Regions from separate parts of the Homo sapiens genome. Here region 2 is linked to region 1. A link means that fine-mapping ties the variant in region 1 to the expression of a gene that starts in the linked region. Tissue or cell type: whole blood. Region 1 holds a variant in brackets; the other region holds the start of a gene. All regions are shown on one strand. Distances are between the middles of the regions.

What was found. PIP is the estimated chance that this variant, and not a neighbour inherited with it, causes the effect.
Region 2: it holds the start of ABTB2, and the variant in region 1 is fine-mapped to the expression of ABTB2 in whole blood (TOPMed, PIP 0.91).

The regions. Positions count from the first base shown.
Region 1 is chr11:34,263,696-34,268,695 of GRCh38, reverse strand. The region is part of intron 1 of ABTB2 (ankyrin repeat and BTB domain containing 2); the gene reads left to right. Among named protein-coding and RNA genes, the nearest start is that of ABTB2, 92 kb to the left of the region's middle. The variant C/T (reference allele first, on the strand shown) is at 2,536.
Region 2 is chr11:34,355,139-34,360,269 of GRCh38, reverse strand. It overlaps ABTB2 (ankyrin repeat and BTB domain containing 2), which reads left to right and starts at 2,260. Exons shown (of 17, transcript NM_145804.3): 1 at 2,260-3,569. The coding sequence starts at 2,687. RefSeq lists a silencer at 2,075-2,274 and an enhancer at 3,225-3,334.

The sequences.
Region 1 (5,000 bases):
CCAGGAGTGTAGCAGAATAAAGTTCTGCTGTTTAAAGCCTCCCAGTTCATGGTACTTTGTTACAGAAGCCCCAGGAAACTCACGCAGTGGCTGGCCCACCCTGCCGGTGCAGCATTCCAATACCCTTCCAGTACCTGTCATTATCCCTGTTCTACAAATAAGGCAGTAAAGGCACGGCAAGTTCCAATGACTGCCTGAGGTTTTGGCTAGTGGCAGAGCAGGAATCAAACCCAGGCCCTCTGATTCCACGCTGCTGCAGTGGATGATCTGGGAAATGTCAGCCGTCCTGTCCCCATCCCTAGCATCCACTAAGAGGAGAGAGTGGGTTCTCAGACTGATGGCATCTTCTGCTTCGTGTTCCTCATTCCAGGAGCTCTGAGGTAGTTATTTTTCTACTGTGAGCATCTGAACTTATTTACTTGACTTCTTAAATATGTACAAGAAAAACATCAGGCCAGACACAGTGGCTCAAGCCTGTAATCCCAACACTTTGATAATCCAAGAGAACCCAAGACAGGTGGATCACTTTGAGCCCAAGAGTTCAAGACCAGCCTGGGCAACATGGAGAAAACCTGTTTCTCCAAAAAAAATTAAAAAGTTAGCCGAGCATGGTGGCTGGCGCCTATAGTCCCAGCTACTCAGGAGGCTGAGGCTGGAGAATCACTTCAGCCCGGGAAGCAGAGGTTGTAGTGAGCCGAGATCAAGCCACTGCACTCCAGCCTGGGCAACAGAGCCAGACCCTGTCTAAAAAAGAAATCTTAAAATAGGGAGCATGTTTTACATACATTTGTGCATTATTTATAATAAAAATTGAAGAGGAGTGAACTCTCATTTTCTTAGCATTTACAGTGTATCTGAAGAATGTGCTTAAGAGATCCTTGGGGAGGTACCCCAAAAAACCCCCGTGTGCAAGGCAATTTAATAAGGGAAGTCTCCAATGTCCTCCTGGAAAGCATAAGAACACTGATACTTCCTTCTCAGATAGCACCTGGTTGGCCAAGTCCTTGTGTAACAAACATAAACGAAATCCACACCAAAAACTGGAGATGATGCACTTTCCCCCACTAGGGTGATTCCTTTTCAAACCTTCAACTCACCCACTGGAGAAGAAACTCAGGTTGCAAGTGAAATCTTACCATTCAAAGTCTAGGATTTTTTTTGTTTCAAATATTGCCTTTTCTCTGTGTTACAAGTATTTTCAAACATGCAGACATGTATTCAGGGCCCAGGTTTAGGGTTTCTCAACTACGGGGATGGAAATGTGGGATGGGGGCAGGGAGTGATGCCGTCAGGATGGGGAAGAGGCCAGGGTTGGGGTCCAGGAAAGAGAATGCCAGGGACCTTCAGAAAGTCAGCAAGACTGAGCCCCAGTGGGGTGTTCCTGGCCAGTTGAGTCTGTCCCTGTCTGCCGTGGTGACCCAGGTTTCTCCATGGAATTCCACCAGCATTGGCTTGCTCTTCTGAGGGCTGCCGCCTCTCGAGCACCCAGAATTTGAATGCCTGGCCTCAGCTACAGAGTACTTGGCCGTCGTGACACATGGCTGGCAGCATCCGACGTGCACGTCTGCTGCTGCCAATAAAGAGAATTGTTTCTTTCTCTGAACAGAGTCCATTTACATTGAGAGAATTTTCCTCTCCTACCTCCACCAGCACTTCCTCCCCGCCCCGCCCCTCCCTCCCCTACCACCCCACAAAAAGGAAAAAGCTTTTGGGGAATTTGTTTTTAGTGGGCTCACTCAAAAGGAGCTTTATGTTTATTTTCTGAGTGGCCTCTGGACTGTTGTGTCCATTTATCATACCTCCCCCGCCTCTCCCTCCCCTCCCACCCACTGGCCCCCATCTCTCCTCTACTCTGAAAACCTAAACTTCATCAAACTGTTCCTAACGACTACCACATGTCTACAGAGGGCACAGGGGGTGGGGGAGGGGGATCTGGGAAATGAAGAAACCCTCCAAGGAGCACAGTAGCGTATTAAAATTCAATGGCTTAGTCATCAGAGTTTTCAGCCCAAGCACCGAAGAAAAATAAATGAATGTTCTGTAACAGTCTTGTGGATCTCGGAGGAAGGGGGTGGCAGGGGAGGGAGAGGAGAGGAGATGTTGTGGTTTTTAGATAGAGGAGTTCATGCTGTAGAGAACAATTAAGGCCTTTGCTCAGAAATAACAAGACACACTACTGTTTTCCTGCTTGCTGGAGGAGTGCATAGTGTCAGGGCTGGCAGGGATTGGTCTGATCGGCCAGCTCTGCTCACGGATGAGGAAACTAAGGCCCAGGCCAGGGATGTGACTTCTTTAGAGTCATATAAGTAGAGGCCAGGTGCAGTGGCTTATGCCTGTAATCCCAGCACTTCGGGAGGCTGAGGCAGGAAGATTGCTTGAGCCCAGGAGTTCAAGGCCAGACTGGGCAATATAGTGAGACCCCATACTTCCGAAAAAAATGTAACAATTTGCTAGGCATGGTGGCATGTGCCTGGAGTCCCAGCTACTTGAGAGGCTGAGGTGGAAGGATTGCTTGAGTGCAGGAGTTTGAGGTTA[C/T]GATGAGCTATGATCGCACCACTGCACTCCAGCCTGGGTGACAGAGTGAGACCCTGTCTCTAAATAAGTAGATAAATAAATAACAAAAATGAATTCGTGGTAGAGATGGAACTGGATCCCCTCAATCATTCTTTCCTCCCAACTCAGGCAGATCTGCTTGGAGTTTCTGATGGTGTTTTATTCTGTTTTTTGAGATGGAGTTTTGCTCTTTTCTCCCAGGCTGGAATGCAGTGGCGTGATCTTGGCTCACTGCAACCTCTGCCTCCAGGGTTCAAGCGATTCTCCTGCCTCAGCCTCCCGAGTAGCTGGGGTTACAGGCACCTGCCACCATGCCCAGCTAATTTTTGTATTTTTAGCAGAGACAGGGTTTCACCATGTTGGCCAGGCTGGTCTCGAACTCCTGACCTCAGATGATCCACCCACCTCGGCCTCCTAAATTGTTGGGTTTACAGGCATGAGCCACCGTGCCCGGCTTTTTTTTTTTTTTTTTTTTTTTTTTCTTGAGACAGAGTTTTGCTCTTGTTGCCCAGGCTGGAGTGCAATGGCATGATCTCGGCTCACCGCAACCTCCACCTCCCGGGTTCAAGCGATTCTCGTCTCAGCCTCCCAAGTAGCTGGGATTACAGGCATGTACCGCCACGCCTGGCTAATTTTGTATTTTTAGTAGAGATGAGGTTTCTCCATGTTGATCAGACTGGTCTGAAACTCCCAGCCTCAGGTGATTTGCCCACCTTGGCCTCCCAAAGTGCTGGGATTACAGGCATGAGCCACCACGCCCAGCCAATTCTGATGGGTTTTAAGAGCATCAGCTCTTGGGCTGAGAACTGCCATGGTGTCCGCAAGGTACTCACCCCATTGAGGGTAGCTGCTTCAGTGACATTGCACCAATGCTGGTGGGCCTTTCTCCACCCATCCTCTCCCCCAGCTAGGCCGGTGAAAGGGCCTGGGTGTTTGTGAGTTGTCTTATATGCTCAGGCTTCAAGGACTCAACCTGCCTCTGGAACTTGTTGCTTCGGTTCTATTTTTCCTTGTATCCCTGCATCTTCCTTAGGAAGGATAGACCAGATTGCCCTTTCCTTTGCTTTTTTCAAATGAAGCGACTGAGTCACGAGGAAGTGAGAGGACTTGGTAAAATCCTGAGTTGATAGTGAAAGAAATGGTTCTGCAATGCACATCTCCCCTTTCCCTGTCCTCCATGCTGATTCAGATCCCTCATTTTGGTGACCAAGGACATTGAATAGGAGAGATATTGTGAAATCTTTGAGCTCAAAGTTTTAGAGGAGAATGAAGCCAAGCCCCTGTTCCGAGGATGAGGAAGTGGGGTCGGGATGAGGAGGGGTCTGGCCAGGGCCAGCAGGCATTACAGGCTCGGGCCAGCAGAAATGTGGCATTCACCCTGGACTAGCTGTGGGACACGCTTCGAACAGTTTAATGTCCCAGGAGGGATTGAAGTGTGGCCAGTCCATGCCACCCACCACTGGTCCCAGAACAGGGAGAGCATTGTAGTTGACTATTATATTGGCTTTGAGTCTCCGTTTGGGCTTCTTTGATCAGCTTGGGAGAAAACTGAAAGAAAAAGGTAGACAAAGTAACCACCCAACTCAGCTAAATTGCTGGCAGCAAAAAGTCAAAGAAAATCAGATTTTCTGAGCAAGTTTGAAAGGTCTCCCTCGAGTAGCTGGGCAAATTCCCATGGATCTGGGCCATGAAGCAACATTTCCAAAGGCATTGGTCTGCTCTTGCTTCCTCTGTGTTATGGCAGAAACACTGGCTGTATCCAGACCTCTGACCGTTCTTCCTGTCCACAGCACAGAGACACATCGCCATGTGCCTGATGTGCTGCCATTGAATCCTAGGGATGGTGTGAATTGAAGAGCCCATCTCACAGAGGAAGAAACTGAGGCCGAGAGAGCTAGGGAAACCCTGCTTTGAACTCTCGGCCTCGAGACTGCTCACTATACTCCCTATTCAGGGCTTCCCTCCAAGCTGCTTCTAGAAGATCAGATGTGTTTGGAGACTCTCCTGATGGCCCTAAAACTCTCGCCCTTTTTCTCCTGCTGGAGAAGCCTAGTAAGAAGGCCTGTGTTACTTCCCTTAGAGAAAACATTGGGAAACTTACCCTGGAAGACCACTGATCTCACAGAGCAAAGCCAGCCAAACGTCAGACTCCATAAAGACGTCAGCATGTTAAGGAGAACCGTCTGGGCCTGCAGTACTCACACACACCAGCCTTGTTAGCAGATGGGTTTATGTTCTCCCTCCCGTGCCACAAATTGCAACCTCCATGGCAGATACCAGTGGGGGACTGGGGTCGGGCCTGAGGACAGTGTCTTGCGCATGCCTGATGTGTGTCGTGTGTCACTTTGTGGGCTAGGAGATAGGGCTCCTGGGGGTAGGTCAGCCCATTCATCCTTGTTTCCCTACTGTGCCTAGAATTGAGCTCTGTCCCCAGAGGGTGCCTACAA
Region 2 (5,131 bases), 92 kb before region 1:
TGTCTCTAAAAGATAAGAACATTTGATAAATATAACCACACTACCATTACCACATCAAAAAAAAAAAAACAGTTATTCTTTAAGAGCAAACATCGAGGCAGTGTTCCTAATGGTTTCATAATGTCAAATGTTTACTGGCTTTTTAAAACAAATTCAAAATACACATAAGTTCCACACCTTGTAATTGGTTATTATGTCTTTCAAGTCTCTTTAAATGTGTAGGTCTTCTCTCCATCTCTTTCTTTCCTTGAAACTTATTTATTAAAGAAACTCAGTTGTTTGTTCAGAAGCATTTCCCATGGCTGAATTTTGCATAATATATCTTCATGTTGCAGGTCAACATTCACAGGATTCTCAGATTCAGTTGGAGGCATGTTTGATTATCTACACTTTAAGTCATCAAGTAATTTGAATATATTAATATAAATCCCATAGGCTCTTTTTCCCACTCCAGATGATTCCTCCAATAACCTTTCATTCAGTAAGTTCCCCGTTGTAAATTTCCAGTTAAGTAATTCTCTTTAGGTTTGATGGGTGCGCACAACGAAGAAAAGGGGGGACAGGGAAACCTTTCTGAAATTCATTTCCTTTGAATATATCCATTAGAGGGCGACATTGCCTTTAATATTATATTTCCCCAATAAAGTTTTAAATTGCATAAAATTTACTTTTGTATTTTTGACAAGTTGGACCTCATTGCCTACTTTAATTTCTAATCTCACGTCTGTAAAGTGTGACTGCATTCTCCTTTGTTAGTTTGATCTCTGCTGACTTGCGTCTTTGGTATTACAGTACTTCCATCTTTGACTCTGTTCCCAATTCTAACCATCGGGCGGCGATGTTGCATAAATAAAGACCCGCGGAAAGGCAAAATTAAGCGAAACTGCCAAATAAAAAGCAGTTTCACCGGGGGTAAAGGCCATTAATTTAAGAAGGAAAGAGACAAACCAGACATTTCTAGTTCATATCCAACTCACGGCCCAAGGTCAGAACTGTGTAAAATGCAACACAAAGGAGCCATTCAGGAGTGGGGGAGGCTGACTTGGGGAGAGCGAATGCACAATCCCCGCCTTGAGCCTGCGGTTCCACTGGAGGGGGCACAGGTCCGTTTGCGCACGTGCGTGTGAGTAGCCACAGGGCAGCGGCGGGACATGCCTGCACCGGGCATGGGACTGCTGAACCAACAGCGCTCTGGCGGACCGTTTGGGACACCCGCCCGGAGGCAGGTTGGCACTGGCGCTGCCTGGAGGTCAGCCACTCATTGTACCCCGGAGGAACTGGGTCCCGCGGGGGCATACGGCTCGCCCACCGGCACGCGTTAGGAGGCGAACACCTGCATCCAGCTAGGTGTTCCGAGCTCAGCCCAGGGCGAGGGACTGCTCTGCCACCTTCTTCTCATTCTTCCTGTAAGAACACTGTCTATCTCGGACAAAAAGGACCCACCTGACAGCAAGTGGTATCGTCACACAGAGGTAACAGGGAAGTCACGGATCCTCTTGAGAATCTGACAAAAGTTGGTGCCCCTTCCCCATAGTGGCACTCAGAAAACTGCAGGTGAAACCACAAATGGGCGGAGGCACTCACAGGCTTCCTGGGGCCCGTCCATTGATCAGATACCAGGTTAAGAAATTCTGTCCTTATTGGAGCCTAGACGGCAGCGCAAAGGAACCAGACGGACTTGGAAAGAGAGGCAGGGACTCCCTCCTCCCTCCAAACACAGCCAGCGTTTCATCTCGGATTGCGGGAGGGGCCTGGCGGAAGGTGGAGGAGAGGTGGAGCGCCTGGATGGGGCCCTCCCCATTCTCCTGGCCCCAACCCCAGGACGCCTGGCTGCGGAGGGCTCGAAAGCGAGCAGCGAACGCCCAAAGCCTGGGTGGCGGGAAGGTGGCAGCGCCCTGTAGCTTTTCCTTTGCATTTTTCTTTAAATCGTGAGCTCCGGAGCTATCGTTTCGACCGCTGCTTTCCGGTCTCCACCTCCACCTCCCAGTTGGCTGGCTCGCCCTTCCCCCACCCCCCCATCCCCCCCATCCCCCCCCATCCCCACCCCCATCCCAGCCGCGTGCCCGACCCTCGGCCTCCAGCCCCGCCTCCTTCGCCGCGGGGTTTAACCCGAGGCAGAGTGAAATCTGCATAGTGACCGCCCCCTCGGAGATCATTGGTGCAGCCCCGCCCATCGCGGCCGGTGATTGGTAAGCCGCCCGGGGTTATTTGCATGTCGGACGCAGCCGGGTACCCAGCTGTGCTGCCGGCCGGCGCAGCGCAGAAGTTTGCAGAGCGCTTTCTCGCCGGCTGGTCCCGGACTCGCGCTGCGCCCTGCGCCCTGCGCCGCCGCCTCCTCCTTCTGCCGCCGCCGCCCTGTTCTCCCGGGATTCCTTCTCTGTGGAGGACTGACTCTCTGCTTGTGGGAATTAGAGGTGGACAAGGGGGAGTGCCGGGGGGTAGCGACGGGGTTCTTTCCAGTGGCAGCTGCGAGTCGGGACGCCGGGAGCGTGGGGCTCCTGCTGGCCACGGATCTCGGCCACCTTCCCGCGGCCTCCGGGCAGGCAATGCGGCCGCCGAGCCCCGCGACGCAGAGAGGAAGGAGGGTGGCCCGGAGGGCCTAGAGCTTGTTTCTGCCCACTTGGGAAAGAGGGCATGGAGTTGTGAGTGCCCCTCGCTCGGCGACGCCGCCCTCGGCAGGCTCCCCATGGCCGGGACGTACAGCTCGACTCTGAAGACGCTGGAGGACTTGACCTTGGACTCCGGGTATGGGGCCGGGGACTCGTGCCGCTCGCTCAGCCTCTCGTCCTCCAAGTCCAACTCGCAGGCGCTCAACTCTTCGGCGCAGCAGCACCGCGGGGCGGCCTGGTGGTGCTACTCCGGCTCCATGAACAGCCGCCACAACAGCTGGGACACGGTGAACACGGTGCTGCCCGAGGACCCCGAAGTGGCCGACCTCTTCTCGCGCTGTCCGCGGCTCCCCGAGCTGGAGGAGTTCCCCTGGACCGAAGGAGACGTGGCCCGGGTGCTCCGCAAAGGCGCTGGCGGCCGGCGGCTGCCCCAGTTCTCCGCCGAGGCGGTGAGGCGCCTGGCCGGGCTGCTCCGCAGGGCACTGATCCGCGTGGCCCGCGAGGCGCAGCGCCTGAGCGTGCTGCACGCCAAGTGCACCCGCTTTGAGGTGCAGAGCGCCGTGCGCCTGGTGCACAGCTGGGCGCTGGCCGAGAGCTGCGCGCTGGCAGCCGTCAAGGCGCTGTCCCTGTACAGCATGAGCGCCGGCGACGGGCTGCGCCGGGGCAAGTCCGCGCGCTGCGGCCTCACCTTCTCAGTGGGTCGCTTTTTCCGCTGGATGGTGGACACCCGAATCTCCGTGCGCATCCACGAGTACGCAGCCATCTCCCTCACCGCCTGCATGGAGAACCTGGTGGAGGAGATCCGGGCCAGGGTGATGGCCAGCCACAGCCCTGATGGCGGAGGGGCCGGAGGCGGGGAGGTGTCTGCTGAGGCCCTGGAGATGGTCATCAACAACGACGCCGAGCTCTGGGGCGTCTTGCAGCCCTATGAGCATCTCATCTGCGGCAAGAACGCCAATGGTAAGCGCGCGGGCCTCGGACTGGCAGACTGGGTAGGCAAGAAATCCCGCCCTGGGCTACTGGGGGAGTGAATTTCCTGAGACAAAGCTGGTGGCTGTGCCAGTTCTTTGGGAGAAAACGTTTGGTCTGAGGATAGGGTTCATTACATGGCACTTGCCAGAGATTGTTCTAAGGGTGTCTGACTTTTGGAGGGTAAACTTGTGAATGATCTCCATCCTGTTCTGCGTGGCATTGTTACTATCTGCGGGCTGTTCATTGATTGGGTGAGATTGAATCTCTTGACCAAGCCATTCCTGAACCTCTCTTGAAATGAAACTTACTGCCCCGTGGCTCTTTACCGTGATTGACTAGGTCTCTAGCTGCTGTCTTTCCCCAACAGCTGGTTAGATTGACTGATTCTGCCCCCTAGTTTTCCCCAGCTCAATAGCAGCAACCAAAGGGTCCCAACTTAAAGACCTGAACCTTGGATAAGTAAGATGGGCGGAGGGAAGTGGGAAGCCCAAGATCTGGTGCTGCGCCTTGTGCTTTGCTGGGCTGAAGGATGCTGTCAGGCGCTCTCTTGGGGGATGGAGGGGTAGTGGTTCGCTCTTACCTATATGTGCCCAGGAATGATGAAACCTGGGGACCCCGACTCCCCTTCCCAGAAAAGTAACCACAGATTGTCTCCTGAGACCTGATTTTTCCAAGCTGTCACCAACCAAGTGAGCCATTGGTTAAAACCTTGCATTGTATTAAATGTTCTTTCCTGAAAAGAGTGGTGGCCCATCAAGGGGAAGAGATAGGTAACCGCATGGGGTCAAGTCTGGGAAAGGAACCATTGGGTGGTTGCACTTCCCTGAAGATAGCATGGATTTGGTGCAAAGGATGGAAACAAAGCACATGACCTTTTCCCTGACAATGTTAGGGGGTGTGACATTGCATTCAACTGCAAACTACCTACAAGACTTCAGTTTGAGAAGTCAGCACCATAAACTGTTCAGAATGGTATTATGGTTAAACAGCCTTACGATCTGATTGGAAGGCCATTTGGGGGGCAGCTTTCAGTGGCAAATAAGCAGGCAGTGGAAGAGGTCAGGTGGGGACTGGAAAGGGATAAAAGAAGTCAAAACATGGTTTAACATAATCATAATAGCTGAAATGCAAAATAACCCTTAATGTGTCGTCATTATTCTCAGCACTTTGTATTTAACTCAAGTACTCCTAGCAAGCCTATTAGGTAGGTACTTACTGCATAGTATGATGCCCATTTTACAGATAAGGAAACCAAGGTACCCAGCAGTTAAATAATCTGCCCAACATTACATAGATGTTAAATGGCAAAACTGGAATTTGAATCCAGTTTGAATCCAGGTAGGCCCCTTTAAGGTTCTAGATGCTGGTGGAGAAGAAACAGCTTTGTTTTTCTGGTTTGTTGTTGTTGTTTGTTTGTTTGTTTTTCTTACTGGACTATAGCTCTCAGATCTTATGCTTTGTTTTTTGATTAGCCCAGTTTTCGAGAACAGTTGACATGTTAGGCCCATTTTGAAGACACTCTGTACCAAGCATGGCTTACTTTGACATTA